Linked DNA regions of Homo sapiens. The protein of the gene in region 1 purifies or fractionates together with the protein of each later gene. This does not show direct contact. Each region holds a gene or a part of one and is shown on either strand. Other genes may lie near its edges. The genes, in order: TRIM49 and MYLK2.

What was found.
Region 2: the proteins of TRIM49 (region 1) and MYLK2 purify together in Homo sapiens (affinity purification with mass spectrometry; one large-scale study listed by BioGRID and IntAct). This does not show direct contact.

Annotation. Positions count from the first base shown.
Region 1 is NC_000011.10:89,801,860-89,805,680, reverse strand, and holds part of TRIM49 (tripartite motif-containing protein 49), read left to right. Parts: intron 1-1,207; 5' UTR 1,208-1,211; coding exon 1,212-1,622; intron 1,623-1,887; coding exon 1,888-1,983; intron 1,984-3,748; coding exon 3,749-3,821.
Region 2 is NC_000020.11:31,829,356-31,832,590, reverse strand, and holds part of MYLK2 (myosin light chain kinase 2, skeletal/cardiac muscle), read right to left. Parts: intron 1,773-3,235; coding exon 1,702-1,772; intron 1,579-1,701; coding exon 1,450-1,578; intron 889-1,449; coding exon 736-888; intron 588-735; coding exon 455-587; intron 1-454. UniProt on the Homo sapiens protein: Implicated in the level of global muscle contraction and cardiac function. Phosphorylates a specific serine in the N-terminus of a myosin light chain.

The DNA.
Region 1 (3,821 bases):
ATCTGTCCACAAGCTATACATGATTCTACATGGGACAGAATTCATCAGGAAAATTAATTTGCTTGATTATGGAGTCTAGAGAGTTCCAATATAGGCTGTCTCTAAGCTGGTGTCCTGAGAATACCGGTATCCTGGCTAAGCTCAAGTCTGAAAGGTTCAGAACAAGTTTCAGGAGAGAGACGGAGGAAGTTGCCTTTTTTCTGCCTTTTTCTTTATATCTGAGGTGTCAGCTGATTGGATGGTGCCCACACACATTGAGAGATGAGGCTCCCACTCAGCTCACCAGCTCACATGTCTCTCTCCTCTAGAAACACCTTCACAGACTCACCCACAAACAATGCTTCACTAGTTCCCTAGGTGTTGGTTAATCCAGTCAGACTGATACCTAAAATTCACCATCACACTATGGAAATATAATTACACCTCTCTGAGTTTAACAAAAACCTCCTATATGTTAGTTCAGAGCTTGCACAGCCCTAGGGGAAGTTAATTTAATCCGCAAGAAAATAAAAAGACCCAATATCTTTAATAATTTTTCTTTTCCCTACTAGTGAAACTTGATTAGTTTAATTGCAGTCTTTTTCTTTGTTTATTTGGTTGGTTGGCTTTTTTTTAAATTTTGTTTTGATTTGGGTCTTTGTTTTTAATTTAATTTAATTTTAAGTCCTGGGATAACTGCAGGACTTGCAGGCTTGTTATGTAGGTAAACTTGTGCCATGGTGGTTTGCTGCCCGGCTTTTGTGACTCTCTATAAAAATATGTCATAGAACCATCTTCTCATATTTCTTTGGCCATCTTCTCATATTTCTTTGGCCCGGGTAGTTTTTTCCCTCCCACTCTTTCACAGTCATTCATCAGTTATTGAAAGAAGAATAGGGACAACTATGATTTATTCTGACCACTTAGAATCAAAACCCAATTTCCAGATCTATGTTCAGAAAATGGGTAGTTGAATAGGTTTGTATTATGCTACAGACAGGAACTAGGAGTAGAAGGGACTGTGAGTCCTCTGGTTAGTAATATCTGTTAGAAAGCCAGGAGACTCCCTCTAAGTGTAAATTTTTAAGTTTGTAACAGAAGAAATAGTTTGTTGTACTTTAATGAACACTGTCAAGAGAAGAAAATATAACTATCACATATCTCCACATGTTTAGAAGGTTTTCATCAACCCAGGCCCCAAAATGACATGTTTCTCTTTGTTCCTCAGAAACATGAATTCTGGAATCTTACAGGTCTTTCAGGGGGAACTCATCTGCCCCCTGTGCATGAACTACTTCATAGACCCGGTCACCATAGACTGTGGGCACAGCTTTTGCAGGCCTTGTTTCTACCTCAACTGGCAAGACATCCCATTTCTTGTCCAGTGCTCTGAATGCACAAAGTCAACCGAGCAGATAAACCTCAAAACCAACATTCATTTGAAGAAGATGGCTTCTCTTGCCAGAAAAGTCAGTCTCTGGCTATTCCTGAGCTCTGAGGAGCAAATGTGTGGCACTCACAGGGAGACAAAGAAGATATTCTGTGAAGTGGACAGGAGCCTGCTCTGTTTGCTGTGCTCCAGCTCTCAGGAGCACCGGTATCACAGACACCGTCCCATTGAGTGGGCTGCTGAGGAACACCGGGTAAGTGATGGCTCTGAAGATCGATTTCTGTAAAGGAAGCATAAAATTCCTGTGGGTCTATTTTCTTGGAGATTGGATAAAGCCAACTCTGAGTCCCTTTAAGCAGCTCTGTTTGGGCTTTCTTAGCTTCCAACCTCTGGGCTTTGACAAACATGAAGGGAAACAAAGGAAATGCCATTTACTAGGGGCTTATTTGTCTCTCATTCTGGGCCCCCTCCCTATGTCATGGTCTGCACTGGTGCTTCAATTTATGGCTCTTTTGCAGGAGAAGCTTTTACAGAAAATGCAGTCTTTGTGGGAAAAAGCTTGTGAAAATCACAGAAACCTGAATGTGGAAACCACCAGAACCAGATGCTGGAAGGTTAGTCCTGTACTACTCTACCTTCTCCAGGAACTTATGGTGGGCAAATGGGTGACTCTTAAAATAGGAACTTGATATCAAACTGTAATGTTTCTGGGATACAGTAAAAAAAAAAAGGCGAGAGAAAACACTGAGAAAAAGTGGCCTCATTTTTATATAGAATAGTATGCCTGTTAGGTAGGATTTCTAAGAAAACTACTGATGTCACCCAAAGCATGCTGGTTTGTTTCATACAAACCTATAGTTATACACCAACAGATCCAAGAAACTGGGCCATCTCAAAGCATTCTATATTTGCTGGTTGGATAAATGCTAGGCAAAAGGGTTATTTGGCAGTCATGGAATGCTCAACTGAAACTTCTGAGTGTCGGTCAGCATTAATCTGAATGCTAGTGTGCAAGTAGTATTTGGAATTGCATGGAAAATTTGAGGCAGAAAAAGTGACAGGGCAAATCTAGGGAAACCATGAAATTAAGAATCTCAACTAATTAATATTGAATAATACATAACATACGATGAGAAAAGCGGTGAGAAATACGGATTTGTGTCTTGAGGGAGACATGTAAACATGCCAGAAATATGGGAACTAGTATCTAAACATAAGGAGAACTCTGAGGACTTCAGAAAAACATTAAAATAATTTTCTCTTCGTGGATGTATATTTTGAGGGTATGATAGCTAAGATTAGTTTGTTGAAAAGTATTTCATGAGAACCTAGTCTATGTTGAATATTAAATTAGAAAATATACTAGTAAAGAAGAAAGGAAGCACCTTTGTCCTCACAAATCATACAATCCAAATAAGAGAGTCAAATTGTCAATACACAAATATATGCAATACATGATGTATTTGAGTGTGGTAGGTTTTTGTTGGAGAATAATCAAGCAGGGAAGTAGAAAAGGACAATAGAGGCCAGAAACTGGAGATTAGTGTTTGAGTTTTAAATAGGGTGGTCAGAAAAAAGACTCACTGAAAAATTCAAATTGAAACAAAGTTTTGAAGAGGAGGGGGAACACAAATGTGTGTGTGGATATATATGTGGACCATGAGTGTGTATATGTATGTATGTGTGTGTGGTTGTGTGTATATATGTATGTATGTATGTATGTATGTATGTGTGTGTGTTTGTATACATATATATGTAATTCTAGTTGGAGAGAACAGCATATGCAGTAATTTTGAGTTTGTGTATATTTGGAGGCCGGAAGAACCACAAAGAAGTCTATGTTTCAGACTGGGATGACTTAGAAAAAGAATAGAAGGAAATGAATTCAGGGAGACAAAGATGGCCAAATCATAAATGCAGCCTTATTAGGATAGGTTTTGCTGAGCGAAATGCACTTAGCTGGACATGCTAGTCTAAGGTCATTTTCATATAATGAGTTTAAGCAACTTGGTGCATATCTCAGAAATAGAAAGAATTGTTTCCTTTCTAGTAACTATAGCCCTATACTCCAACTCTCAAGCATGAACTGTTCTTACTTTGCCATAAATATGGGTTGGAATAGAGAAATTCAAATTGTGTTTTTTTGTTTTCAACTATCTTAGAAAACACATTATCTTGAATAAATTTAACGTAATTGGTCAGATACAGCTATGTTGATCTTTATGCAGAAAAAAGGAAAGGAACAAAATTTGTAGATTCTAAGAACTGGCAAGACAGAAGTTTGAACTATTGGACGTTCGAGAGACAAAAGGAATCAGTGAGATTTAATAGGAGATGGATATATACATTTCTCTTTTGACTAACCCATTATCACTGCAGGATTATGTGAATTTAAGGCTAGAAGCAATTAGAGCTGAGTATCAGAAGATGCCTGCATTTCATCATGAAGAAG
Region 2 (3,235 bases), on another chromosome or scaffold:
AACCTGGGAGGCAGAGGTTGCAGTGGGCCGAGATCACGCCATTGTACCCCAGCCTGGGTGACAGAGCAAGACTGTATTGAAAGAAAGAAAAAAAGATAGAAAATGCCCCATCTCTCACCAAAAGTAACTCCACAAAGACTGAGATCTTTGTCTCTTTTGTCCACTCCTATATCCCAATGCCTAGAAGTAGTAGATGCTCAAGAAATATTTGAAAAATGAAGGAGGGAAGCCAGAGCCCCAGATGGGTGGGGCTGGGTGGAAGGCCGGGTAGAGGTCTCCACTCTAGGACAGGAGCCAGCCCAGGGCAAAAACAGAAAAGTCAACCCTGTCTTCCGGACAGGGCCCAGCCTGGTCAACAGAACCTGCCAAGGCAGGGACGGTGGAGGCTGGGATCTGGCACCAGGAGCTCTTCCCACTAGCAAGCCCTCCCTCCCCACCCTGAATCCAGCGGTACCTTCCAGCGCCTCTTCATGAGGTATTTCTTAAGCAAGATCTGGGACTTAAGGCGTCGGTTACAGCGTTTGGCTTTCTCCGCCAGGTTGTTGAGCCAGGGATGGGCGAGACACTGGGCAGCGTTCATCCGGGCCCTGGGGGAGAGGCAGCATGGTGACGGTGGGCTGCATGCTCGTGAGGCCCCAGGGGCTCAGCTGGCCTCTCTACCTGGCTCCCGCCCTGCCAGCACTCAGACACACTAAGCTTGCACACATACAGTTCAGGTTCTGGGGTGAGCCTCACCTCTGGTCCTTGACGATGAGGTTGGAGACAAAGTCTTTGGCCTCGTCTGATACGGCCTCAAAGGTCTCTTCATCAAAGTACCAGTTGCCAGATAGAACGTTGTTTAGGGTCTCTGTGTCATCATCTCCCAGGAAGGGGGAGAGGCCGCTCAGCCTAGAGGGAGGGGATAGCAGGGGGCAGGGAGGTGAGATTGGAGGTGCTGAGTCACCTTCAGAGGGGTAGGGAACAGGGGCAGATCCTAGGAGGCAGCACCGTGTGCTGAAAAGACCCCCAGCCTCTCGTGGGACAGACCTGGGTTTGAATCTGGCTGGGTGACTTTGGGTAAGTCATCTCCCCTCTCTGAGCCTCACTCTTCTCATCTGTAAAATGGGCATAATCATCCCAGCTTCCTAGGTGGCAGTGATGAGGAATGACGAGTGCAAGGTATGTGGTGAGCACATAGGAAATGTCCACTGCCCCTCTGCCCGCCCCAGGTCATCCGAGATCTGCTGTCCAGATGCTATGCCTTTATAGGGACCTTGGTTTTTCCATCTATGAAATGGGTACCACGTTCCCCTTTCCTGTTCTCCCTAGCACTCCCAACCCCAGCAAACCCCTGACTGAGGGATAGGGGAGGTGGGACCACCTTACCAAGACCCTAGGGCCAATCTTGGCCTCGGCCGCTCGCCCCCATGCCCCACCAACCCCATAAACACGACCCGCCTGGGAGCTCACAGCATGTAGGTGATCACCCCCATACTCCACATGTCTGTCTTATCGGAGATTTGGTCATAATTCACCACCTCAGGTGACAGGAACTCTGGGGTCCCAAAGTTCACCTTCAGCTTCTCGTTGGGGTTATACCTGGGGGTGAGACCAAGGGCTGAGAGCACAGCTCCTGGCCTATACCCATGCCCCCTCCACCCCACCCCTGTCCCCTGCCAACTCAGAGGCTTGTCTTGCCCTCCCCACCCACCCAGGTGGTACCTCCGTGCCAGGCCAAAGTCAATGATCTTCACCAAATGCCCGGTGGTGTTGACACACAGGATGTTCTCTGGCTGAGGAGAAAGGGGGTGGCCTGGGTGGGCCTCTGACCAGCTCACCCTCCCTCTCCCACCAGGCCCGTGCAAACCCCAGGCTCCTTGAGGCAGAGGCCCAAGCTGCCAGAGTGGGCAGCTGCCAGAGACCCTCCAGCCCTGCCTGCTCTGGGCACAGAGAGATCTTGAGGCAAGTCCCCCACGAGGGGCTTATGCGAGGCCTTGAAGCACAGGACCTGCCGTGATGGGTTCAGGTGAGATTTCCCTCCATCTAAGGCCATGAAAGAACACGACATTCTAGCAGTTCTGAGGATGGGGAAACAGAAGCCTGTGGAGAGGAGGCATGACAGCCTGCTATCCCCGCCCCCAGGCTGGGGGGCCAGTGCAGGACCACCACCAGATACATGAAGCTCCAGAGAACAGAGAAAGAAGATGCCAGCTCAGTTCCTGACAGGAAGCCTCTTGGGAACACGGGGCTTCACACTACTCCAGGGTCACTGGAAGATGCGCTACTCTTGTCTCCCCAGTTAGTGAGGATGATGAGCTACAAAACATCAGGCCCAGTCCACTCACTTTCTCACTTTAGCTCCCCAGTCCTTCCCAAAGATCTAGGAGGCACACACTGTTATCTTGAGATGAAACTGTGACATTGAGATACTATTACCATCCATTCCCATTTGGCAGCTGAGAAAGCTGAGGCTCAGACACAGAAGTGACTCGGCCACAGTTGCCCAGCAAGTAAGCGACGGAGCCAGGAAATGAACGCATGACTGACTCCAGCACTGGCCTTGTGATGTTCCGCTACCACCACTGATCCTGCACTCTGGGGTGAATATAACACTACAGGGTTGGCTCTTCCAGGCCAGGGATTGTCTTCTCCTGGCCTCCTGGGTCCCACCCTCAGGGTCTAACAAAGGCACCCAGTAGGGGCTCAGCCAAGTTAACACATGGATGACGTTACTGTAAGCCCAGTTCCTCTCCACTCTGGGCCTCTGTTTCCTCTTCCTATCACACAAGGACACAGGACTAATCTGAGGTTGCAGGGTATAAACATTTTTAAGTTAACAATGGTTCAAAGGCAGGAGATTCTGCACAAAAACCCTGAATTCCAGCAGCTCCTGAAACACCGGAAGCCCTGGCCACATGGGCCATATGCCTTGGAACAAGTTGCCACTAACAGCCTGAGATGAGACAAATGTCCTCCAACTCTCCCATGGTCGCCACCACCCCCTGATCCCTCCCATTCAACATGTATTTGTTATTTGTCTGGGCTCTGTGGGCATTTGACTCAAGTCCCCTAAGGAGACGCTTTCTGAAGGCACTCTTAAAACTGATAGATTCACTCAGAGCAGATACTAATGATTTTAATAGTTTGGCCTGGTGTCCCACAAAACAGGAAAGAAAAGAAGGGTCCCAGGGTACAAGCATTTGGGGAAATGAAGCAGACTCAAATTTCCTTTCAGAGATTCTCCATCTACACACAG